5 separate regions of the Homo sapiens genome follow, and regions 2, 3, 4 and 5 are each reported to be linked to region 1. Evidence: microRNA targets listed by miRTarBase, many of them from high-throughput screens and not tested one by one. Region 1 holds a microRNA gene; each other region holds the end of a gene's coding sequence.
Evidence for each region. The annotated mature microRNA hsa-miR-450a-1-3p reads AUUGGGAACAUUUUGCAUGUAU and lies in region 1 at 2,259-2,280, shown strand. An mRNA with a match to its seed (bases 2 to 7 or 8) in the 3' UTR can be bound and repressed. Matches are read on the target gene's strand: a 7mer-m8 pairs with bases 2 to 8, a 7mer-A1 pairs with bases 2 to 7 and ends in A, and an 8mer does both.

Region 1 (5,130 bases):
ACTGAGCTCTATAATCTGAGCAGTTGGTGGGTGTTTGGAAACATGGCCTTGGCTCCACTGCTGGAGTCAGGGAGCTCAGAACACTGCAGCAACCTGCCAGTGAGAGTCTGGGTTGCTTTGAAGCCTGAGTCTCCCAAGGCAGCTCCCTCACCTGTTCCCCCATGTCCACCCCCACCTGCCATCCAGACAAGACTATTACCCTAAGACCAGACCTTCTAAAGGCGTGGCCACAGAATCATCAGTATCCCAACATCTTGCCTTTGTATCGTGTGTTTACATACTTTTCCAAATACTTTGTTTTTTCTTTTTTTTCTTTTTTTAATTTGTGACAACCTTGAAAGACAAACAGAGTTAAGGCAGTCCAAAAAATAATTACAGACAAGAAAACTGGGGCCTCTGGAGGTTAAGGATTTGTCTGAGGCTACTCTCTGGGGGCTCTTCCTCCAGGCCTCATACTGTGTTCCTTATGTCATTACCTGTTCATCAGAACCGACTATGCAGTAGTGACCAGAGCAGGAAATGGAGGTGAATGTGTTTGGTTACAAAAATTCCCGGTGAAACTGGCTAGTCTTATGATGAGCTTTGGCCTATACATTGGACACTTCCTGGGTGAGGCCCAAGATTGGCCCCAGGATTACTAAATAGTGACTATAAGTTACCCAGCCGTGTACAAGTCAATCTGCACAAACCAAAAAAGCATGATTTAAATTCATTTTAAACCTCTGTCCCATGTTTGTTATTTTCTGTAGATTCAATCAAATTATCTTAAGGAAACAAATGAAGTGTCAAGCTATAGGGGTTGACTTAATCTAGTCACTCACTCAATGGAACCTTTTTCAGCCATTGCAAATAATAATGATAGAGAATATACAGAAACCTGGAAAATGCTTATGATATCAACTTAAAAAAAATCAGGGCCACAAAATCACATGGACACCATGATTGAAAAATAGGAGCAGAACCTGGAGGAAACCTGCAAAACAGACATACTTGTTACTTAAGGGTGGTGGGATTAGAGCTGAAGTTTCTTCTTTCTCTACTTTTTCATGGTTTTGTGTGTGTGTGTGTGTGTGTGTGTGTGTGTGTGTGTGTGTGTGTGTGAGATGCCACGTTTTCTTGTTATGTTGTCAAAATATAATTCTCTAAAAAGTCTTTAGGGGTCATGGGTGATACAGAAATTTGGGATCGGTCAAGGATGCACAGATCTCAGACATCTCGGGGATCATCATGTCACGAGATACCAGTGTGCACTTGTGACAGATTGATAACTGAAAGGTCTGGGAGCCACTCATCTTCATAGCAAAACATGTGGTAAGTATTACAAGACGAATCAATGAAAAGATCAGGAGGAAAGTGGGCCCTAAGCAAAGAAGAAAGGGGTTGCTATGGGATGGGGTGGGAGGATGAGTTGTGTTTTCATAGGAGTGTAATGGGAATGCCTTTATTTGTGTCTTTATTGCTTTAAATGTTTGTTGAATGAATTGAAACTTACATAAGGTATATGATTTTATACTTGTGCTAGAATGCTAAAATAAAGAATTTATGCTCAAGCAAACAACTGGAAAACACTTTGCTATAAGCATTACAGACACAGGGTCATTTTTAGTATGTTGAGTCCACACAAGTGGTCAAGAAAAACCATAAAAACTACATGAACAGAAAGCCCCAGTTAAAAAAAATGCATAAAGATGCTCATTTCAATATTTTAAGGATGGAAGTTAGGAACATCCTGAATGACCAACAACAAAGGATTAGACAAATAAAATACAGCGTAGCTAGCTAGTACAATAGAATAGGATGCTTTCATGTAAAATAATGTTTCTGAAAGTAATTTTCATGTCATGAGAATGTGCTCCTGATAAAACATTTAGCGATTGAAAAAAGGTGCAAAATATTTTCCCATCTCTGCAATATAGGTATATAGGGAGCATTCTGTATGAATAGTTTTGTATCAACATACAGATAAAAGGCTAGGAGGAAACATATAAAAACTTTATTGTGATTATCTCTGAGTTGTGGTATAAAGGTGACCAAAGAAAGATGCTAAACTATTTTTGCGATGTGTTCCTAATATGTAATATAAATGTATTGGGGACATTTTGCATTCATAGTTTTGTATCAATAATATGGGGAAAAGAGGCTATCAGGAAGTATACCAAAAGTCTAGAGGTGGTTATCGCTGACTTGTGTCACTATAGGCAATCAAAAACGATACTAAACTGTTTTTGCGATGTGTTCCTAATATGCACTATAAATATATTGGGAACATTTTGCATGTATAGTTTTGTATCAATATACAGATGAAAAGATGGAGGGAATAAGCAAAAAATCTAACAGCGGCTATCTGTGGTTTACTTCTGTGATAAATGTAAGATGCAGAATTATTTTTGCAATATGTTCCTGAATATGTAATATAAGTGTATTGGGATCATTTTGCATCCATAGTTTTGTATCAACATATGGAGAAAAGTCTAGGAAGAAATATACCAAAACTTGTAACAGTATTATAGTATAAAATTATAGGTAATGTTTGTTTTTCTCTTTATACTTTTATGTATTTTCCAAGTAATATTTGCATAAACAATAAAATGCATTGCTTTTATAGCAATAATAAAACATTTTATTTTTAAAAAGAGTTTGTATTTTTTTTAAAGCATGAACCCCTGACATAAGGGTGGGGGAAGACTTCCTATTTGGCCAGCAGTGGGCCTAGAATACTTTTTCAAACATATCTGGGAAACCTTTGTACAACTTCAGTTGGATCTGCAGTGCAAATGTGTTTTCATTTGCTCTTGGCAAAGAAAAGAGAAAGTATAACTAAAAAATATAACCACGACAGAGTTATAATAGTAATATTAGTAAACAAACTGCTATCTATGTCTAATCAAAGTAACATTTAAAGAAGTATAGAAAGCTGAAACAGGCTCCTTTTCCTCTAGTAGCAATTCAGGAAGGTGGTACTTGGATGCTCGCCCAGGGCCTCAAGACGCATTGGCCAGTTTGAGATATGCCCAAGTCAGGAAAACACCTTATTTAGGTTATTTCCACTCAGCCAACTTCTTGCAGATGCGGGTAAAGCCCCCCCTGCATTTTCCCGCAAATTCAGCTGAGCTCCATAGTAACTCTGGTGTTGCAGAACACATGTGACACCTCAATTTAGGCGATCCTTGTTCTGGTAAGAGATGGAACCATTTGGTCACGTACCTGGCCCATGGTCTGAAGGGCACCTACCAAGGTTTTAGCGTTCCTCAGTGGCACTGATTTGGACAGAGACACATTACAGGAGGATCTAAGTTCCTTCCTATCTTTTTAGTAGCATTTTGGGAAACTGTTCCCCCACCAAGGACATATTTGGCACTCTAGCAAGTCCATATGACTAGACATTACTTTCTTTTTTTTTTTTTTTTTTTTGAGACGGAGTCTGGCTGGCTCTGTCACCCTGGCTGGAGTGCAATGGTGCGATCTCAGCTCACTGCAAGCTCTGCCTCCCAGGTTCAAGCGATTCTCCTGCCTCAGCCTCCCAAGTAGCTGGGATTACAGGTGCCCGCCACCTTGCCTGGCTAATTTTTTTGTATTTTTAGTAGAGACGGGTTTCACTGTGTTAGCCAGGATGGTCTCGATCTCCTGATCTCGTGATCTGCCCACCTTGGCCTCCCAAAGTGCTGGGATTACAGGCGTGAGCCACCGTGCCCGGCCGACATTACTTTCAAAATAGATCCATCATATTCCTTAAAGGAGAAGCTGAGTTGTGAGGCAAATATATATACACATATCCATTTACAAAGATACAGGAGACCATTCCTCCAATTTTCTGATGCCCTGCCCTTGTTCTGCTTAAGAACATACAATCATACAACCAAACTGGTCCCCATGCTTAAATGTGTGTACTCCTCTTTAAGGAGCATAAGCATTTTTATCTGCCACACTCTGTCAATCAGAGCATATTTACTGGGTGCCTACCTCTGTGCTAGTTACTTGTGGATAGAGGAGCGGGTAGGGGAGAAGCGGAGGTTAAGGTGATACTGAGCCAGAGAGGCCTTGAACACACGAATACTTTGTCTGCCACTGGGTACAGAGCAGGGATCAGCTGAGGCTTTGACCTTCGTCTGAGCCAGGTCAGACCACACAGAGAATCTGCTTTGCTAAGCAACCATCTAAGTGGCCTCCTTTCCCCTAGGGCTCACTCTAGTCCCTGCTGGACAAAATGTATGGAATAGGGGCAGAGTGTGGGAGGGACCCCTTTCTAAATGGGAGGTCTCGCCTCTAGGGCTGAGAAAGAGAGAGAGAGAGAAATCATTCCAAATTGAGCATTGATCTTAAGCCCCTTTCGTTGACCAGTGAAAAAAAAATCTTCAGCCCCTGAATTTCTTTCTATATATGTATATATAGAGAAAGACAGAGAGACAGGGTCTCACTATATCGCCCAGGCTAGTCTTGAACTCCTGGGCTCAAGCGATACTCCCACCTCAGCCTCCCAAAGTATTGGGATTACAGGCGTGAGCCCCTGCGCCCGGCTGAATTTCTGAACCAGTGAAATGTCCTAGAATTTGGCCAGTACAGAGATTGCTTCTCAGAGTTGGAAGTATGCCAAGAGGGGTTGAGGAGGGGCAGGTGCAGAAGGTGCTGAGGGCTTCCCTTTGTTAACAGGGTACAAACCCTCATTTTACACAAGTCCAGCCCCTCATTTTACAGAAGAGAAAACCAAGTTGCAGAGAGAGAAAATAAGTTGCAGAGAGGTCGTGCAGAGAATTGGGCAATGTTACAACTTGAACCTTGAGCTTCAGGGCTTTTTCCATTGTAATATACTGGGTCTAAAGGACACAGGGAGTGACTTGGAAAGACTCTATGAAGGATATGGGACTTGATGAGCACCTGCAAAAGTGGGTGGGGCTGGGCATGGTAGTGTTCACCTGTAGGCCCAGCTACGCCAGAGGCTGAGGGAGGAGGATCACTTGGGCCCAGGAGTTCCAGGCTGCAGTGCGCCATGATTATGCCTATGAATGGCCACTGCACTCCAGCCTAGTCAACAAAGCAAGGCCCTATCTCTTTAAAAAAAAAAAAAAAGATAGGTGGGGCCAGAAGAGGCAGAGAGGACAGGGGTGGACATTCCAGGCAGGGGGTAATGACATA
Region 2 (5,130 bases), not on the chromosome of region 1:
GCCCAGGTAGAAGGAGGTGGGTGAGAAGGCCACTCTTTTTTTGAGACAGTCTCACTGTCACCTAGGCTGGAGTGCAGTGGTGTGATCTTGGCTCATTGCAACTTCTGCCTCCCAGGTTCAAGTGATTCTTCTGCCTCAGCCTCCCGAGTAGCTGGGATTACAAGCACATGCCACCACACCTGGCTAATTTTTATATTTTATTAGTAGAGACGGGGTTTCACCAGTTGGCCAGGCTGGTCTCGAACTCCTGACTTCAAGTGATCTGCCTGCGTTGGCCTCCCAAAGGGCTGGGATTACAGGCGTGAGTCACCCCGAGCCGAGAAGGCCACTCTCAAAGAGATGTTAGACCTTATTGGAGTCCTGGTCTCTTCAATTCTGGGCCAAGTTCTTCAGCCTCTGAGGGTGTCTTCCAGGTTGACCTGCTATAAACCTGGGCCTTTCTCTGTCTTATACTGACGTCAGAGGTCATGGAGAAGGGTGGACTTAGCAAGGTGGGGGTTGGGGGGCACATTAAGGGTTTGTACCTCTCTTTGTACGCCAACTGCCTCATGACTTAATTATCATTGGTTTGGTATTTTCCGTCAGAGTACAGGCCACACAGATTTGTTAACACGTGTGCAAAACACTATATAGGTAAAAGCAGATGCGTACGATGCCATTTCCATCAAGCACAGACAGAACTCATCTAAGCTACTACCAGTCAGGACAGCGGCTACCCCAGAGCTGGGAAGAGCACCTGGGAGAGGGGAACAGAGGCAGGCTTGGCTGCAGGTAAAGGTCTTCACGCTGATTTGGTGGCTGGTTACACAGATGTGTGGTTTACAAAAATCCATCTTGTGATATGTGCAAGCTTCTGAATGTTTTACCAAAAAGGTTTGAAAATAAGTAAATCAGCCAGGTGAGCATGGTGGTGTGCATCTGTAGTCCCAGCTACTTGGAGGCTGAGGCAGAAGAATCTCTTGAGCCCAGGAGTTCAAGGCCAGCTTGGGCAACATAGTAAGAACCTTAGAAAAAAAAGCTGAACATTGTGTATGCATTTGACTCTAGGGCAAATATATTTTTTTGAGGGGGAAAAGGCCTTAACTTCTACTTGTGTATGCACATTTACATGTGTTTTCTCAATCATCTGAGGCACTATCCCTACTTGACAGGTGACCAAGGTGGGGCTGAAGAGACTGACATATCCAAGTGGTAGAGGGGCTGGGATTGGACCTCCCAGCCACAAAGCTGCACTGCTTTTCAGAAAAAGGTTTCATAACCCAAGCACTGGGCTGCAAGACTTGGAAGGGCAGACACCTGGCTATACTCATCTGGGAGTCCTGCTGCTCAATACCAAGCCTGACTCAGAGCAGCGTTATGTCCAGCATGTTTATCCAGTGTATGGAAAAGGCTGTTGTATCCATCCTTGCTTTCTATACGTTTGCACTATTTCAAAATTAAAATATTAGCATGAAGATCCAACCACTGCAGCCCAACATCAGTGCTCTCAGCACTTTGCCCCTCAAATTGGGCCCCTCGAGAGGGCATCCTGGATGCCAGAATCCTTGAAAAGAACTAAGGAATGGCAGGAGTCCAGGGCCCCAGCAGCAGGTAACTCTGGCATGTGGCTCTGAGTTCCTGAGTCTTTCTGGTTTAAAGAGAAAGTTTCTTTTTTTTTTTTTTTGGAGACAGTCTCGGTCTGTCACCCAGGCTGGAGTACAGTGGCACGATCTCGGCTCACTGCAAACTCTGCCTCCCAGGTTCAAGCGATTCTCCTGCCTCAGCCTCCTGAGTAGCTGGGATCACAGACACGTGCCACCATGCCCAACTAATTTTTTTTTTTTTTTTTTTAGTAGAGATGGGCTTTCACCATGTTGGTCAGGCTGGTGTCGAACTCCTGACCTCATGATCCGCCTGCTTCGGCCTCCCAAAGTGCTGGGATTACAGGCAAGCCACCGCGCCCAGGCTTTTTTTTTTTTTTTTAAGACAGAGTTTCGCTCTTGTTGCCCTGTCTGGAGTGCAATGGCGTGATCTCAGCTCACTGCAACCTACACCTCCCCGGTTCAAGCAATTCTCCTGCCTCAGCCTCCCAAGTAGCTGGGATTACAAGCATGAGCCACCATGCCCAGCTAATTTTTCATATTTAGTAGAGACAAGATTTCACCATGTTGGTCAGGCTGGTCTCAAACCCGACCTCAGGTGATCCACCCACCTCGGCCTCCCAAAGTTCAGGGATTACAAGCATGAGCCACCGCACCTGGCCTAAAGTTTCTTTTCTTAGGTGAAAAGACCTGGCATCATCAGGGTCTAACTTTCCAGGTTTTGTAGGGTATGTTTAAGGCTGGGAAGAATCACAGTCCCCATGCTTTGATCTCCAGCTAAGCAGAGGGTGGGGAGGGATGTGTGCCCTTTACAGGAGGCCGAGAGGAAGCGACAAACGCCAAGTGCAATGGAGAGGGCTCTGCAATCCTATTTGGATCCCAAACCTCACTAACCCTTTTTTTTTTTTTTTTTTTTGAGACACAGTTTCACTCTTGTTGCCCAGGCTGGAGTGCAATGGTGCAATCTCGGCTCATCGCCACCTCCACCTTCCAGGTTCAAGTGATTCTCCGGCCTCAGCCTCCCGAGTAGCTGTAATTACAGGTATGCGCTACCAAGCCCGGCTAATTTTGTATTTTTAGTAGCGATGGGGTTTCTCCATATTAGTCAGGCTGGTCTCAAACTCCCAATCTCAGGTGATCCGCCTGCCTCAGCCTCCCAAAGTGCTGGGATTACAGGCGTGAGCCACTGCGCCAGGCATTAACCCTCTTTAATCTGTGTTTACCTGCCCACACCTGAGCCTGACCCCACAAACAATGTGACACAGTTTTAGCCCAGTCCCAGTTTATTGTGGAGGAAAATGGGGGACATGGAGCTGAGCAGAACAGACCCTTCCCTCTCCTCTCACAGGCCCCTAGGGAGATGGGTGTCAGGACTCAGTGAAGTGAAATGGGGCCGAGGAAGCCAGAGACTGACAAGAGAGCAAGAGAGGACAGGAGGCAGAACAACACTAGGACAGGCGGGGGTTGGTGGAGACAGTGAGGCAGGGACACAAAATTGCCAAGTCAGGACATCTGCACAGAATTCTATTCCTCATCCTTTTTTTTGGAGACGGAGTCTCACTGTGTCACCCAGGCTGGAGTGCAGTGGCGCGATCTCGGCTCACTGCAACCTCTGCCTCCCGGGTTCAAGTGATTCTCCTGTCTCAGCCTCCTGAGTAGCTGGGATTACAGAGGTGTGCCACCACACCCAGCTGATTTTTCTATTTTTAATAGAGAGCGGGTTTTACCATGTTGGCCAGGCTGGTCTCAAACTCCCAATCTCAAGTGATCCGCCCACCTCGGCCTCCCAAAGTGCTGGGATTACCGGCGTGAGCCACCATGCCCGGCCTCCTCGTCCTTCTTGCTGCTAGTTCAGTCTGGTACTGGGTCTTAGAGACATGGACAAGACAGGGGAAACAGAGCTAGATGTCAATAGGCAGGTGACTGGATTGAGAGGGATGGGGGATACTGGAACACTCAGATGATGGGGAAGGAATGGAGGAACCACTGTGCCTTTCTCAGGTCAGCCTGTCTGGGCAGAATCCACACTAGAGATTCTTTTCTAGGGGGAAGAACAGCACCAGAGCTCAGACAGGCACAGTGGCTCACACCTGTAATCCCGGCACTTTGGGAGGTCGAGGAGGGCAGATTACGAGGTCAGGAGTTCGAGACCAGCCTGACCAACATGGTGAAACCCCGTCTCTACTAAAAATACAAAAAATTAGCCAGGCGTGGTGGTGCACGCCTGTAGTCCCAGCTACTCGGGAGGCTGAGGCAGGAGAATCGCTGGAACCCGGGAGGTGGAGGTTGTAGTGAGCAGAGATCATGCCACTGCACTCCACCCTGGGTGACAGAGCGAGACTTTGTCTCAAACAAACAAAAAAACAGCACCAGAGTTCAAGAGAGAAAATTACACAAAAGTCATATAGATGCTAGTGGTACAACAGACGGAGGCCTAAGAAATCACAGTGACCAAAGAATGTGGGTGTTTTCAGAGAGGGCAGTGCAGGATGCTGAGGGTGTTACAGAAAGATATTTGCACTGTGGAATTCAGGAAGGGTGAGGTGTCAAGAGTCCAGCCTGGGGAAGAACCAAAAGTCCTGAACTATTGAGGAACAAGTACATGCGGCGCAGCTCAGCAAAAGACAAGCCCAGGTTCAGGGACAGTGTGACCATGGGGTCCAGGCCATCAGGCTCCGTCCCAGCATGGAAATTGGGGAGGGGCAGGGAGAGGTTCAGGGCCTGGTAGAACCACTGAATCTGGGAGTCAGACAGAGGCAGGGCCAGGGGCCTGTCATGGGGCTCCGGCAGAGAGCTCTGGAGTTGGGGGCTTGACCAGGAGTTGCAATAATCGTACTGACAGCACTGGGCCTGATACCAGTACTCTGCAAAGTAGGTGTTGCGTTTTTCTTGGCAGCGGTAGGAAATGTACTGTCCACAGCCTCGAACGATGAAGCGAACCTTGACATCTGAGGGAGAGGGGAAAGCTGATAACCCCTTCCAATAGCTTCCCATAGTCCAAGAACCCCTGCTACTGACTTTTCCCATCCTTCACCCAGACCTAATTTACTTCTAACCCAGAGTCCTTCAAGAGGCTAGAAAAGTGAGCTCTGCTGGCCCCCTAGAACCTTAGACCCCTCCTTCCAAGATTCTTCTGGTTTTTTTTGAGACAGGGTCTAGCTCTGTTACTCAGGCTGGAGCATGGTGGCGCAATCTTGGCTCACTGCAACCTATGCCTCCTGAGTTTAAGAGATCTCCCACCTCAGCCTCCCGAGTAGCTGGGACTACAGGTGCATACCACCATGCCTGGCTATTTTTTTGTAGAGACAGGGTCTCACTATGTTGCCTAGGCTGGTCTTGAACTCTAGAGCTTAAGTGATCCACCTGCCTCAGCCTCCCAAAGTGCTAGGGTTACAGGCATGAGCCATTGCACTCAGCCCCTCCTCTCTTCTTGTACCCCATGCCCGGAGCAGCCCTGATCTGTGAGAGGAGAGAAGACCAAGCCATTGGCTGCCCCACCAGCAGCCCCTTCCTGGGACCTTATTTACCATAATAGATGGTGATCACCATG
Region 3 (5,000 bases), not on the chromosome of region 1:
TCTGAATGTGGAACGCTATGCCTTGGTATTTGGAATCAACACCTTTATTGCCTTGGTGATTCAGACCATCATGACTGTGATTGTAGTAGATCAGAGAGGGCTCAACTTGCCAGTCAGCATTCAGGTAAGCTGCAATACTTCTGTTTTCAACTAGGTAACCTCAAAAATTTCTCAACCTTACAACAAGCAATATTTAAATTTCTTGAGTTCCTTGGTTAAGCAATTAAAAAATACATAATTCCTTCATTATCATATTATAACACACCAAGTAGGTTTTGAGCAATAATTGCAACTAGGACAACATTTACATGGATAAGGCAGGTAAGAAGTAACCTCAATGCTTAAATTTATTCTTGGAGACATTGAATGTAGCATTGCACCAGCCTCCAAACAAAGACATAGAGACAGGTCAATGAGTTTTAGTGTTTTTTTGGGTTTGTTTTGTTTTGTTTTTTACTATTGATGATAGTAACTATGATTTTAACCCAAGCAACCTGCTCTAAAGCCAAGACTCTTAGTCACCGTATTGCTTACACCTTCTTACTTGATCTTGATTTCTTACTTGATAGGAGAGTATTGTTCAACCTAAATGACCCATATTAAAAACCTGGGTCTCAGTTACCCCATAATCCAAGCAAACCAACAGTATTAGGATGTATTATCATTGACATAGATGGTCATATTTTATATGTGGCTAATTATTTGTTTTTCTCCAGTTTTTAGTTTATGGGAGCTATTTTGCAGTAATTGCTGGAATTTTCCTAATGAGAAGCATGTATATTACCTACTCAACCAAATCCCAGAAGGATGTACAGAGCCCTGCTCCAAGTGAGAATCCAGATGTGTCTCACCCAGAGGAAGAGAGTAATATCATCATGTCAACAAAACTCTAACCTCATCGCAACAAACGCAACAGTGGCTTTCAAAGTTATGCAATAATAAGGAAAGATTTTGAGATGGGTGGCATATGTTTTGCCATAACTTGACATGCTTTGCAAATCTGGATTCCAATGGACCTTTCAAAACCACAACAAAACCTCAGTTTTAGATGAGTTCTCTATGTGACCAATTTTACTGGATGCAATTGACAGGACCCGTCATCATAATTAAACAACCCATATTGGGGACCCCCTGTGACTAGTAGCAGCTGGAAAATTCTGGTTTTTATCACTTGTAAAGACATGCAGATGGCGTGGAACCAAACCATGAGAAAACTCCAGCCATCCTGGAGTTGATATTCACCATTTGTGAGGAGAAATACTAACTGGACTGACCCTATTGCTAGGCTTAAATACTTATTTGATCTTACCAAAGAAGTCAACACATGGGACCTTTGTGTCACATGAACCATTTTCTTTCCTCTTCTATTAAGTGTATTTCTGTTTAAGTTACAGTTCTCTAAGAGAATTACAATGTTTGTCCCATTTCTAAGGGCTTCTCTTCAACTCTAATAACAGCATTATTCACGTTATGATTTGATAGTATTATTATTTAATTTTTTTATGATTATTTTCCATTTTGTGCTCTGAGTTTTGCTGTTGAAAGTCTCCCTCAAGAATAGCTTCAGATCCTCTTGTGTATTTGCAGAATACACAAGGTCATTTCCCAGTGGCCTGGGAGAGGCAGTGAGCCTTCTCTCCACCACCATAGACAGGTGTTAATGCATCTATGGGCCAGGTGCAGTGGCTCACTCCTGTAATCCGAGCAATTTGGGAGGCCAAGGTGGGAGTTTTGCTTGAGGCCAGAGGTTCAAGACCAGCCTGGGCAACACAGTGACACCTGACTCTACTAAAAAATTAAAAAATTAGCTGGGCAGCGTGGTGTGTGCCTGTAGTCTCAGCTACTTGGGAGGCCATGGTGGGAGGATGGGTTGAGCACAGGAGTCAGAGGCTACAGTGAGCTATGATTGCACCATTGCACTCCAGCCTGGGCAACAGAGTAAGACTCTCATCCCCCTCCTCCCAAAAAAGAGCACCTGTGTGGTGTCTGTCTAAAATAGGAAAACTTAAAGGAGGTTTCTAGAAGTATTAGAAATAAGAAAACACTGATGGGGGGAGTGGAATAAAACACCTGATTTTGTTTTGTTTTGGTTTTTGAGACAGTCTCGCTCTCTCACCCAGGCTGGAATGCAATGGCGTGATCTTGGCTCACTGCAAACTTCACCTCCTGAGTTCAAGCCATTCTCCTACCTCAGCCTCCCAAGTAGCTGGGACTATGGGTGCACACCACCACGCCTGGCTAATTTTTGTATTTTTAGTGGAGATGGGGTTTCACAATGTTGGCCAGGCTGGTCTCAAACTCCTGACTTCAGGTGATCTGTCTGCCTCGGCCTCCCAAAGAGCTGAGATTACAGGCGTGAGCCACCATGCCTGGCCAAAACACCTGATTTTTAAATGGTAGCAATTGTGCTAAATAAAATGTGTAAAAATTTTAAAGAGTTGTTAACATTTTTTGATGAATTCTGCTGAAAATTATCTGAACATACCTGTTTTTCGAAACTTCAAGAAACTTCAATAAGGGATGCATTGAGCAGTCTGACAGTGAGAATAAAGAATGCTGAGTCAAGATTTATATTAAGGCTGGAAGCTGTGGCTCACACCTGTAATCCCAGCATTTTGGGAGGCTGAAGTGAGAGGTTAATTTGAGGGTAGGGGTATGAGACCATCTTGGCCAATATAGCAAGACCCTGTGTCTAAAACAAACAAAAAAATTTTTAATTGGATTTTGATATGGTTTGGATCTGTGTCCCCACCAAATCTCACGTTGAAGTGTAATCCCCAATGTTAGAGGTGGGGCCGGCTGGGAGGCGACTGGATCATGGGTGTGAAGCCTTCATGAATGGTTTGGCACCGTCCCCTCAGTGCTGGTCTCATGACAGTGAGTTATCGTGAGATCTGGTAGTTTAAAAGTGTGTAGCACCTCCCCACTCTCTCTTTCTCCTGCTTTGGCCACGTGAAGATGCCTGCTCCCACTTTGCCTTCTGCCATGAGTAAAAATTCCCCGAGGACTCCCTAGAAGCAGATGTTGCCACGCTTCCTATATAGCCTGTGAGCTAATTAAACCCCTTTTCTTACAAACTATCTAGTCTCAGGTGTTTCTTTATAGCAATGTGATAATGGACTAATATGTTTCTCAAGTATACTCCTCTCCAAATCCCGAAATTCTTCACTGGACTAAGATCCAGCCCAAGAATCAATGCACTCACTTAGTGGAGAAAACTAATAACATTCCTACTTACATTAAAGGCAAGGAAGGAATGGCCGCTATTCTTTTTCTTCTTCTTCTTTTTTTTTTTTTTTTTTTTTTTTTGATAGAATCTTGCTCTGTCACCCAGGCTGGAGTGCAATGACGCAATGTCAGCTCACTGCAACCTCCGCCTCCCGGGTTCAAGCAATTCTCCTGCCTCAGCCTCCCGAGTAGCTGGGATTACAGGCGTGCACCACCATGCCCGGCTGATTTTTGTATATTTAGTAGAGACGGGGTTTCACCATGTTGGTCAGGCTGGTTTCAAACTCCTGGTCTCAGGTGATCCGCCCGTCTCGGTCTCCCAAAGTGTTGGGATTACAGGCTTCAGCCACCTCACACCCAGTCTATTATCCTTCTTTTTTAACTTATTATTCTGGAGGCATTAGGCATCACAATTAGACAAACAAGAAAAATCAGAGGTCAGAAATTGGAAAGGAGGCCAGGTGCAGTGGCTCACGCCTGTAATCCCAACACTTTGGGAGGCTGAGGCGGTCAGATCACATGAGGCCAGGAATTGGAGGCAAGCCTGGGCAACATGATGAAACCCTGTATGTACTAAAAACAACAAAATTAGCCGGGTGTGGTCCATGCCTGTAATCCCAGCCACTCGGTGGCTGAAGCATAAGAGTCACTTAAACCCAGGAGGCAGAGGTTGCAGTGAGTTGAGATTGTGCCACTGCACTCCAGCCTGAGCGACAGAGTGAGACCCAAAGTGGATTAAAAAATGCATTATGATTCCTTCACATATTCACCTATAACAAAATTAACTGCTAAAAAATGAGGAAGATCTTTAGTGACACAGAACTCTAAGAGCTCTACTATCAAGTGGAAAAAAGTCAAGCACCAAAATAATAATGAACGCAGCAACTCAGCATTTGTATAAAAAGGACAAAAATATCTGTATTGGCTTATATATGCGTATAACTTTTCTAAAAAGACAAATGAGGCCTGGCACGGTGGCTCATGCCTGTAATCCTGGCACTTTGGGAGGCTGAGGTAGGTGGATTGCTTGAGTTCAGGAGTTCAAAACCAGCCTAGGCAACATGGCAAAACCCTGTCTCTACAAAAAATACAAAAATTAGCTGGGCATGGTGGCTTGCACCTGGACTCCCAGCTACTTGAGGGGATGAGAAGGGAGGATCGCTTGAGCCCAGGAGGTGGAGGTTGCAGTGAGCTGAGATCATGCCACTGCACTCCAGCCCTGATGACAGAGTGAGACCCTGTCTTGAACAAACAAACCAACAATCAAACAAATAAATAAACAACTGAAACTCATACCAATGATTGCCTACTGTGGAGTAATGGGAAATGGGAGGGAGACATCACATTCTCATGGTGTTTGATGCTTGCACCAAATGAATAACCCACCAGTAAATTAAAATACGACTTTTACAAAAAAGCATTTAACCTCTTGGGAAATAAATTCGCATTGAAGAATAAGGAGCTGGAGATTTGCCATGCAACCATTATGATAGTTTTATATTTTTGGCAATGTGAATGGATTACTAAATGTGCATTTATAATTAAAAGGAACAAACAACAGAAGAAAAAAATAAGTGGGCCTGGTTGGGCACCTTGGCTTGTTCCTGGAATCCCACCACTTTGGGAGGCTGAGGAGGGAGGATCGCTTGAGCCCAGGAGTTTAAGACCACCCTGGGCAACATAGTGAGACTCCATCTCAAAAAAATTAATAATAATAAGTAGACCTGACATTGAAAAATTAAATTAAAATTTTTTATTTGGTATCTCAGTAA
Region 4 (5,130 bases), not on the chromosome of region 1:
TTGGATGTCATTTAATTTGCCTAGGCTTGCCATCTCCTCCTGTGGTACATCTGTAGTCTACAACACAGCCTGGGAAATGGTACCTCTTGCTGTCTTCTTACTGGTTCTGACTCAGGTGAAGGTGTTTGATTATTGTGGCTTAGCTTGGTTCTGACCCATTCCTGATTCTCTCATATTGTTTAGGCAGTTTGGAATTGATCCATTGGATTGGGTGTCTTTCTGAAGAGGATTTTGACATCTACTTTGTTCAAGGATAGAGAGGGATTCCTAGGTTCCCTCTAAATCAGAGAGATCTTTTGGAAGTCATCCCTGGTTTTAAATGAAAATTAGACCTGCTTTGGGACTTGGAAATAGTTTTTCAGAAGGATTGTTTCTTTTTTTCCTCATTGTCTTTAAGACTTTCTTCTAGAAATGGATGCCAGAATATTTTGTTCTTTTTTGTTTTTCTTGCTAGTTTTAGGCCCAACATTAGAATTTAAAGTAGGGAAGGGAGCAAGGTAGGAGACTATTATTTCTTCAGCCCTTTTATGTGTCAGAAACTGTGTCAGATATTCTCATGTAATCATCAGAGCAACCTTAATGGTAGGTGTTATCTTTTGTAATGATGAGATAAAAAGACTTGGACACACTAAGTAGATTACCCAAGGCCACAAGTAGAATGATGATAGGAGTCAGAATTGGAACTAAAACTTATTTGACCTCCTGCTCTTATATCAAACTATCTCTGTTAAAAGTGAGTGACTGTGAAGGACTGATGACTGGGAAGAGCTACCTACTGTCTGAAGTAATGAATTAGCTGCGTATGTTTCTTTTCCTTGCAGGACAGTGTGATGGTCCTTAGCGCAACCCATCGCTACAAGAAGAAGTATGTTACTACTCTGCTATACAAGCCCATTTGAAGGGATCCCTTCTTGCCTCTAAGGATTCAGGAGAAGCATCTCCCTTGCATTTCTGGACTGAACCAGTCTTACCTGAGACTGGAAGGCTGATTTGCTTTGAGGCTGATATGTGTGTTTCAGAGCCTCTGAGTAGGATGCTCTGCTTTTGCATTTGATTGCAGATGAGAGCTTTATGAGTTCACGGAATTTATTTTAAGAAAAAAAAATATACATATGAGAAGAAGGTAAATGGAAGCCTCCTAGCCCCAGCTAGAAGTATTGTTTCTGCCTGTGGGTTTTCACCAAGACCTGTTTGGGGGCGCTGCAGGAATAACTATATAGGAAGATTTTTCCTAAAATGAAAGAACAGCAAACTCTTAGGATCCTTGTTGGGTGGAGATTCTATCACTGCTACCTTGGCTCTCCAAGGAATGGGCTTGTGCTAGACCGCTGCCCTACTTAACAGCTGCCTCATTGCAAGGGCAGTTTTTCTTGCATGGGTTCTCTATATTCCCAGAGTATGTGGCACAATCTGTGTTGTTTATATGATACCAGATGCCCCACAAGAACCCTTATTCCTCTCATTTCACATTCTTCCTTTAATAGCCTCCTTCAGATCCCATACCTGACCCCTCTCTAACACAAAACTTATTGGGTAAGTGACTTTGAAAAGTTTTGTGGCACCTGACCCACCCCAGACACTAGGGCTATCAGAAGGTCTCCTTTTTAGCCCAGCACAGGCCCAGGCCACTTTGTCGTGTTTGTTTTAACTTCTAAAGAAAATATGTTTCAGCATTATAAGAAAGGCAGAATGCAGAACACCTACATTTTTGTTTTAGTTTGGTGCCAAGGCTCAGGCTGTATTGGCAAATTCCCGAAAGTTTTCCCACTTTGCCTGGCCCTGCTTCTGTCTTTTCTTTCTCAGTAAACAGTTCTGAAGGCAGGAGTGGAACCCGGGAGTATTTTCATGTCTTTCATCCTTGAAAGATTTTTATGTGCCTGCATTTTTTTTTTAATTAAAAAATGCCTTTTCATTGGTCTTAAGAGACCGCATTGGAGAATTTCAGGCTTTTGATAAATGCTTCTTCAAAGAGATTTTCTTCTCTAGTCTAGCCTTCCACATTCTTAGATTAATATGGCCAACCCTGTACACATCACTACACTAAACACTGCTCTAGATAAACTGCTCAAGTTCATTTAACTCATTTGATGCACCTAAAGGGGTTCCTCATTTTAAAGATTTGTTAGGCCAAGAAGCAAGAGAGTATTCCTAGTATTCCCAACCATGAAAAGTATCATTCTTTGCACCAAATGTTAACAAAATCATTTTGTTCTCCTGCCTCTTCTTTTTAAAGGTGTTTGATGATTAAGTGGGGTCACTGAATTCCATTTGTGGACTGAAAAGTATTCAATCCACTTTTGGGGTTCAGAGATAAAACATTTTTTCCCAAGTAGCTGGGGCTCTTCCATTTTGCAGATAAGTCAAATAATCAACACTAAAGGAGGCTAAACTGTTGATGAATGAGAGACTCCCTGACTGCTCAGATGACCCTAGCCACACTGAAAGGGCACCTACAGGTCAGTTTAGCTACCTCCTGTCTTTCCCATGCAAAGCTGATAACACAGTTGTCTTTGGACTTGTAGACCTCTTGGATTCCAGGTGTGATGGAGTAAAGTGTGGGATTGTTGTTTTGCTGGGATGCAAATAACTAAATGCTTTGGTGGTTAATTGCTAAGAGTAAATACTACTTTAGCCATCCAAGGCCACCTTCTGCAGCAAAAGGCTTTTGTGGAGAACCTTTTATGTTCCCAACCACTTTTTGAATGGTGTGCCATTTAAAAATCCAGGCCAGATCCTATTATAACCAACTCTCAGGATTTACAGCCTTCAGTTGTACTAGAATTTTGTTTTTATCCAATACTCATTAAATAAGTGGGCCACTTAGGAAGATTCAAAATCTTGGTTATTACATGAAGTTTGTTATATTTCTTGTCAACAGTATTGAAATGTAATATGTATGTGTTCATGTATGAAAATTTTTACTCCACACAGGTGTTTCAGTAGAGTGGGGCAGGAAAAGAGATCTCTTCGATTTCTTTCAGGCCTGAGGCTTTTGTGAAATGCGTCAGCCCCCTGTGACAGTAGGTTTTGATGCTAGTGATCTTCAGATCTTTCTCTCTGGAAATGTGCAGAGAGTGTCAGTTTCCCAAGTTCTGAGGTAACTCTCAGCCCAGATGTGAAATGGGAGCCTACCAGCTGGTATAGAAGGGAATGGGTAGGAGGCACTGGGTGCTGACTCATTCAGCACTGTCCCTTTTCTATACTGCTGATACATCCCATGGTTCTGAGAAGCCTTATCTCAGTCTATTTGGAAGAGAGGGAGGAAGAGAAGGAAGTAACCCAAAGTACTACTCATTTATCATTGTATATTGATTAGTTAAAGGGATAATTAATTTAATGCTGAGGAGAGTTTGACAGATTTTGAAAATGAGTAAAGGCAAAAAAAATTTTTTTAGCCTTTATTTTGCTTTTGGGAATTTTACAGAGTCAAAGTAGGCAGAATAAGAAAATAGTTCTTCAGGAGGGCCGACCTTTAAAGAACTTCAACATAGTTTCGGAATTGTGGGGAAGAGAAGAGTGACTGAGCTGAGAAGTAATAATAGAATAAAGGGTTGAGTAACTTACAACTGAAAATGATCTCTTTTAAAAAGAAATTAAATCAGACACCACATGGTGGTGTCCTTGGATCTCACTGTACAGAATTAGCAGTGTATAACCATCTTCTCTTTTCATCTTGTTCCAATTCTCTCCTCTTTCCTTTCCATTCTGCTTTAAGCTCATGTGTCAGGCAGACTTTACCAGAGTGTCAGACATTACCTAAAACACATACGTTAGCCATGCTGCTGGTATGGAGAAATTCCACACCATGATTATTAGCCTCCTTTAAGCTGAATGGGATTTAACCATTCTAGGCAACACCCCTGAAGGGCATACCTAACCTCAATAGTGTTGGCTTTTAAAACGTATGTTTGTATGGTAGAGAAACTTTGTAAAAGAAGAATCCAAGAGAAGTTTGTGAGGATCCTACAAACCCAGGCCCACTCACTTTGCTCTAATTCTTTCTAGTATCTTGTAGATCTAATGGGTCTGGGATAAAAACTTTGAAAAGTGTCAATATTCCATGTATGCTGCTGAAATGAAGTTAAGTTTGGAAAGAAGTGATACCTCTAGACTGGGTTTATATTAATCTGGGATATAAATGAAGAAGACATACTAATAGAACTCCTTGCTTTTAATTGGGGAAATAGGGCTTTAATAATTTTGACCTCAACTAAAAATGATATGCAATAGTCTCTGTGTGTGTTTGAAATACATTGTGTTCTCAGAGATTTCTACATTCTCACGTTCTAGTGATTTGGGGCATGGGCTTAATAGCAGATGTACAGTGTATTCCTGCATTATTGTGATTCCCCTTAAAGCCCAGTTCTTGCTGTCTTCTACCAGGGGCTGCTGACTCCAGTTACCCATGGAATGCAGGACCTGGGAGGGGTAGCCATTAGGGTCTTTCAAAACTCTTTGGATCTAAGCATTTGTCTCTCCTTAAGTGCCAATCACAATTGGATATGGAAGGACTGTGATTTCTGCAATGAACCCAAACTTTTAGAGTAAAAAGCCAAATTTAAATTATAAGAAAGAAGGGAAAAAAGAGAAAAACTCAAGTCTATTACTTGTAGAGTCCAATTCTTAGCAATGGAATCGCTCTAGGATTCTAGTTTGGGCTTTGTCTGGATTTGCTTTTCTCAGTTGTGCTTTGAAGTGAATAAGCTTTGTTACAAATTAATTTTTTATTAGTTCCAATATTAGTTGGAGTTAACTTGAATTGATTGTATGTAGCACAGCACTTTTGCAGTAAGATTGGTGTGAAATACTAAACACTATGGATTTTGTAGGTGTCAGGTTAAATGGTCAAGGGATACCTACATTAAGTCATATATTAGGTATTGATGATCTTACTTCTTTTCTGTTCCCCTGTACAAAACACTTACCTAACCCAGCTTGTGGTTTTAGGACAGCCAAAGCTCACTGTTGTTGGTTAGTCCTAATCACTACACGGGTCTCATAAATGAGACTTGTTTGAATTTTGGTACATTGGAGCATGTTGGTTGGTATTACACGGCAGCATTTCGAATGAGTGCAGCTCTGTGTCTGTCAGAAAGGAGAGATAAGACTACTTTGAAGGGAATTAAATAT
Region 5 (5,130 bases), not on the chromosome of region 1:
ACTGAATGTGAACAAGTATTCAAAGTATGGAGCATAGAGAAAATATACTCACCGTGGACCTGATGAAGAATGAAGGCTTCAAGGAGGAGGCAGAGCTTCAGCTAGGCCTTGAATGATGGGTAGGCAGAATAGAGGAGGAGAGACATCCTAGATGGAGGGGGTAGAATTGCAAAACCAGGGTTGATGGTGCCAGCACATAAAGGGCTGGCAGGGTGGAGGGTCTATGATAGAGACCTATAGGAGATAAAGATAGAGTTGAAATTATGGGAGCCTCCATGTCTGTGGGAGATATAGAAGGAGGAGGTAACACCTCTCTCCTTTTGGGAGCTCTTATTGGTTTCTTGATCTATAAGTCAAGAAGGTTGTGAGTGGGAGCCACAGGGATGGTAATTTAGGCTGTAACCAACCTAGGCAGGAGTTCTGTTCTTTGTAGTCACTGAGGTCTTCTCATTCCTTAGGTCTTATTGGTCCTAAGGGAGACATCGGTGAAACCGGAGTACCCGGGGCTGAAGGTCCCCGAGGCTTTCCGGGAATCCAAGGCAGGAAAGGAGAACCTGGAGAAGGTGCCTATGTATACCGCTCAGCATTCAGTGTGGGATTGGAGACTTACGTTACTATCCCCAACATGCCCATTCGCTTTACCAAGATCTTCTACAATCAGCAAAACCACTATGATGGCTCCACTGGTAAATTCCACTGCAACATTCCTGGGCTGTACTACTTTGCCTACCACATCACAGTCTATATGAAGGATGTGAAGGTCAGCCTCTTCAAGAAGGACAAGGCTATGCTCTTCACCTATGATCAGTACCAGGAAAATAATGTGGACCAGGCCTCCGGCTCTGTGCTCCTGCATCTGGAGGTGGGCGACCAAGTCTGGCTCCAGGTGTATGGGGAAGGAGAGCGTAATGGACTCTATGCTGATAATGACAATGACTCCACCTTCACAGGCTTTCTTCTCTACCATGACACCAACTGATCACCACTAACTCAGAGCCTCCTCCAGGCCAAACAGCCCCAAAGTCAATTAAAGGCTTTCAGTACGGTTAGGAAGTTGATTATTATTTAGTTGGAGGCCTTTAGATATTATTCATTCATTTACTCATTCATTTATTCATTCATTCATCGAGTAACTTTAAAAAAATCATATGCTATGTTCCCAGTCCTGGGGAGCTTCACAAACATGACCAGATAACTGACTAGAAAGAAGTAGTTGACAGTGCTATTTTGTGCCCACTGTCTCTCCTGATGCTCATATCAATCCTATAAGGCACAGGGAACAAGCATTCTCCTGTTTTTACAGATTGTATCCTGAGGCTGAGAGAGTTAAGTGAATGTCTAAGGTCACACAGTATTAAGTGACAGTGCTAGAAATCAAACCCAGAGCTGTGGACTTTGTTCACTAGACTGTGCCCTTTTATAGAGGTACATGTTCTCTTTGGAGTGTTGGTAGGTGTCTGTTTCCCACCTCACCTGAGAGCCATTGAATTTGCCTTCCTCATGAATTAAAACCTCCCCCAAGCAGAGCTTCCTCAGAGAAAGTGGTTCTATGATGACGTCCTGTCTTGGAAGGACTACTACTCAATGGCCCCTGCACTACTCTACTTCCTCTTACCTATGTCCCTTCTCATGCCTTTCCCTCCAACGGGGAAAGCCAACTCCATCTCTAAGTGCCGAACTCATCCCTGTTCCTCAAGGCCACCTGGCCAGGAGCTTCTCTGATGTGATATCCACTTTTTTTTTTTTTGAGATGGAGTCTCACTCTGTCACCCAGGCTGGAGTACAGTGACACGACCTCGGCTCACTGCAGCCTCCTTCTCCTGGGTCCAAGCAATTATTGTGCCTCAGCCTCCCGAGTAGCTGAGACTTCAGGTGCATTCCACCACACATGGCTAATTTTTGTATTTTTAGTAGAAATGGGGTTTCGTCATGTTGGCCAGGCTGGTCTCGAACTCCTGGCCTAGGTGATCCACCCGCCTCGACCTCCCAAAGTGCTGGGATTACAGGCATGAGCCACCATGCCCAGTCGATATCTCACTTTTTATTTTGCCATGGATGAGAGTCCTGGGTGTGAGGAACACCTCCCACCAGGCTAGAGGCAACTGCCCAGGAAGGACTGTGCTTCCGTCACCTCTAAATCCCTTGCAGATCCTTGATAAATGCCTCATGAAGACCAATCTCTTGAATCCCATATCTACCCAGAATTAACTCCATTCCAGTCTCTGCATGTAATCAGTTTTATCCACAGAAACATTTTCATTTTAGGAAATCCCTGGTTTTAAGTATCAATCCTTGTTCAGCTGGACAATATGAATCTTTTCCACTGAAGTTAGGGATGACTGTGATTTTCAGAACACGTCCAGAATTTTTCATCAAGAAGGTAGCTTGAGCCTGAAATGCAAAACCCATGGAGGAATTCTGAAGCCATTGTCTCCTTGAGTACCAACAGGGTCAGGGAAGACTGGGCCTCCTGAATTTATTATTGTTCTTTAAGAATTACAGGTTGAGGTAGTTGATGGTGGTAAACATTCTCTCAGGAGACAATAACTCCAGTGATGTTCTTCAAAGATTTTAGCAAAAACAGAGTAAATAGCATTCTCTATCAATATATAAATTTAAAAAACTATCTTTTTGCTTACAGTTTTAAATTCTGAACAATTCTCTCTTATATGTGTATTGCTAATCATTAAGGTATTATTTTTTCCACATATAAAGCTTTGTCTTTTTGTTGTTGTTGTTGTTTTTAAGATGGAGTTTCCCTCTGTTGCCAGGCTAGAGTGCAGTGGCATGATCTCGGCTTACTGCAACCTTTGCCTCCCAGGTTCAAGCGATTCTTCTGCCTCAGCCTCCCGAGTAGCTGGGACCACAGGTGCCTACCACCATGCCAGGCTAATTTTTGTATTTTTAGTAAAGACAGGGTTTCACCATATTGGCCAGGCTGGTCTCGAACTCCTGACCTTGTGATCTGCCCGCCTCCATTTTTGTTGTTATTTTTTGAGAAAGATAGATATGAGGTTTAGAGAGGGATGAAGAGGTGAGAGTAAGCCTTGTGTTAGTCAGAACTCTGTGTTGTGAATGTCATTCACAACAGAAAACCCAAAATATTATGCAAACTACTGTAAGCAAGAAAAATAAAGGAAAAATGGAAACATTTATTCCTTTGCATAATAGAAATTACCAGAGTTGTTCTGTCTTTAGATAAGGTTTGAACCAAAGCTCAAAACAATCAAGACCCTTTTCTGTATGTCCTTCTGTTCTGCCTTCCGCAGTGTAGGCTTTACCCTCAGGTGCTACACAGTATAGTTCTAGGGTTTCCCTCCCGATATCAAAAAGACTGTGGCCTGCCCAGCTCTCGTATCCCCAAGCCACACCATCTGGCTAAATGGACATCATGTTTTCTGGTGATGCCCAAAGAGGAGAGAGGAAGCTCTCTTTCCCAGATGCCCCAGCAAGTGTAACCTTGCATCTCATTGCTCTGGCTGAGTTGTGTGCCTGTTTCTGACCAATCACTGAGTCAGGAGGATGAAATATTCATATTGACTTAATTGCAGCTTAAGTTAGGGGTATGTAGAGGTATTTTCCCTAAAGCAAAATTGGGACACTGTTATCAGAAATAGGAGAGTGGATGATAGATGCAAAATAATACCTGTCCACAACAAACTCTTAATGCTGTGTTTGAGCTTTCATGAGTTTCCCAGAGAGACATAGCTGGAAAATTCCTATTGATTTTCTCTAAAATTTCAACAAGTAGCTAAAGTCTGGCTATGCTCACAGTCTCACATCTGGTTGGGGTGGGCTCCTTACAGAACACGCTTTCACAGTTACCCTAAACTCTCTGGGGCAGGGTTATTCCTTTGTGGAACCAGAGGCACAGAGAGAGTCAACTGAGGCCAAAAGAGGCCTGAGAGAAACTGAGGTCAAGATTTCAGGATTAATGGTCCTGTGATGCTTTGAAGTACAATTGTGGATTTGTCCAATTCTCTTTAGTTCTGTCAGCTTTTGCTTCATATATTTTAGCGCTCTATTATTAGATATATACATGTTTAGTATTATGTCTTATTGGTGCATTTACTCTCTTATCATTATGTAATGTCCTTCTTTATCTGTGATAATTTTCTGTGTTCTGAAGTCTACTTTGTCTAAAAATAACATACGCACTCAACTTCCTTTTCTTTCTTCCTTCCTTTCTTTCTTCCTTCCTTTCTTTCTCTCTCTCTCTCTTTCCTTCCTTCCTTCCTCCTTTTCTTTCTCTCTCTCTCTCTCTCTCTTTTTTTGACAGACTCTCGTTCTGTGGCCCTGGCTGGAGTTCAGTGGTGTGATCTTGGCTCACTGCTACCTCTACCATGAGCAATTCTCCTGCCTCAGCCTCCCAAGTAGCTGGAACTACAGGCTCATGCCACTGCGCCCAGCTAATTTTTGTATTTTTCGTAGAGACGGGGTTTCACCACATTCGTCAGGTTGGTTTCAAACTCCTGACTTTGTGATCCACCCGCCTCGGCCTCCCAAAGTGCTGGGATTACAGGCATGAGCCATCACACCTGGTCAACTTTCTTTTGATTAGTGTTTTTGTGGTATATCTTTTTCCATCATGTTACTTTAAATATATCTATATTATTGTATTTAAAATGTGTTTCTTACAGACTGCATGTAGTTGGGTATAATTTTTATCCAGTCTAAAAATATCTGTCTTTTAATTGGTGTTTAGACAATTTATATTTAATAAAATTGTTGAATTTAAGATGGATGACTGTTTTATTTGTTTGCTGTTCACCACTTCTGTTTTATTCTCTTTCCAGAATTCTTTTGGATTGTTTAAATATTTCATAATATTTTATCTTAATTTATTTATTGGGTATTTGCCTATATCTCTTTGTGGTATTTTTTAGTGGTTGCTTGAGGGATTACAATGTACTTAACTTTTCACAGTGTGCATAAAGTTAATATTTTGCCACTTGCAGTAAACCGTAGAAGGCTTATAATCATATTAGTACCTCTATCCACTTTCTTTTATGTTGTAGTTGTCATATATATTACATCTATATACACTGAAACATTATAGGCAATGTTATGATTTTTGCATTCGTCAGTCATATATATATTTTAAAGAATTTAAGAGGAGAAAAATACATA

Region 2: the mRNA of LY6G5B is a reported target of hsa-miR-450a-1-3p. Seed matches in the 3' UTR shown: 7mer-A1 at 3,686-3,692.
Region 3: miRTarBase lists SLC19A3 as a target of hsa-miR-450a-1-3p. Seed matches in the 3' UTR shown: 7mer-A1 at 1,960-1,966, 7mer-A1 at 2,332-2,338 and 7mer-A1 at 3,546-3,552.
Region 4: miRTarBase lists PRKAB2 as a target of hsa-miR-450a-1-3p. Seed matches in the 3' UTR shown: 7mer-m8 at 2,155-2,161, 7mer-m8 at 2,323-2,329, 7mer-m8 at 2,685-2,691 and 7mer-m8 at 3,083-3,089.
Region 5: the mRNA of ADIPOQ is a reported target of hsa-miR-450a-1-3p. Seed matches in the 3' UTR shown: 7mer-A1 at 1,985-1,991 and 7mer-A1 at 4,501-4,507.

Annotation. Positions count from the first base shown.
Region 1 is chrX:134,537,508-134,542,637 of GRCh38, reverse strand. MIR450A1 (microRNA 450a-1) reads left to right here and starts at 2,207; the gene lies at 2,207-2,297. It overlaps MIR450B (microRNA 450b), which reads left to right and starts at 2,376; the gene lies at 2,376-2,453. It overlaps MIR450A2 (microRNA 450a-2), which reads left to right and starts at 2,031; the gene lies at 2,031-2,130. It overlaps MIR542 (microRNA 542), which reads left to right and starts at 1,201; the gene lies at 1,201-1,297.
Region 2 is chr6:31,671,262-31,676,391 of GRCh38, reverse strand. It overlaps LY6G5B (lymphocyte antigen 6 family member G5B), which reads right to left. Exons shown (of 3, transcript NM_021221.3): 2 at 5,108-5,130; 3 at 2,846-4,528. The coding sequence ends at 4,110. Among named protein-coding and RNA genes, the nearest start is that of LY6G5B, 3.9 kb to the right of the region's middle.
Region 3 is chr2:227,683,290-227,688,289 of GRCh38, reverse strand. SLC19A3 (solute carrier family 19 member 3) reads left to right here. Exons shown (of 6, transcript NM_025243.4): 5 at 1-124; 6 at 717-4,527. The coding sequence ends at 893. Among named protein-coding and RNA genes, the nearest start is that of SCYGR5, 19 kb to the right of the region's middle.
Region 4 is chr1:147,155,334-147,160,463 of GRCh38, reverse strand. PRKAB2 (protein kinase AMP-activated non-catalytic subunit beta 2) reads left to right here. Exons shown (of 8, transcript NM_005399.5): 8 at 822-5,130. The coding sequence ends at 899. Among named protein-coding and RNA genes, the nearest start is that of PRKAB2, 15 kb to the left of the region's middle.
Region 5 is chr3:186,853,726-186,858,855 of GRCh38, forward strand. It overlaps ADIPOQ (adiponectin, C1Q and collagen domain containing), which reads left to right. Exons shown (of 3, transcript NM_004797.4): 3 at 459-4,738. The coding sequence ends at 979. It overlaps ADIPOQ-AS1 (ADIPOQ antisense RNA 1), which reads right to left. Exons shown (of 4, transcript NR_046662.2): 2 at 408-2,391; 3 at 53-147. Among named protein-coding and RNA genes, the nearest start is that of ADIPOQ-AS1, 5.1 kb to the right of the region's middle.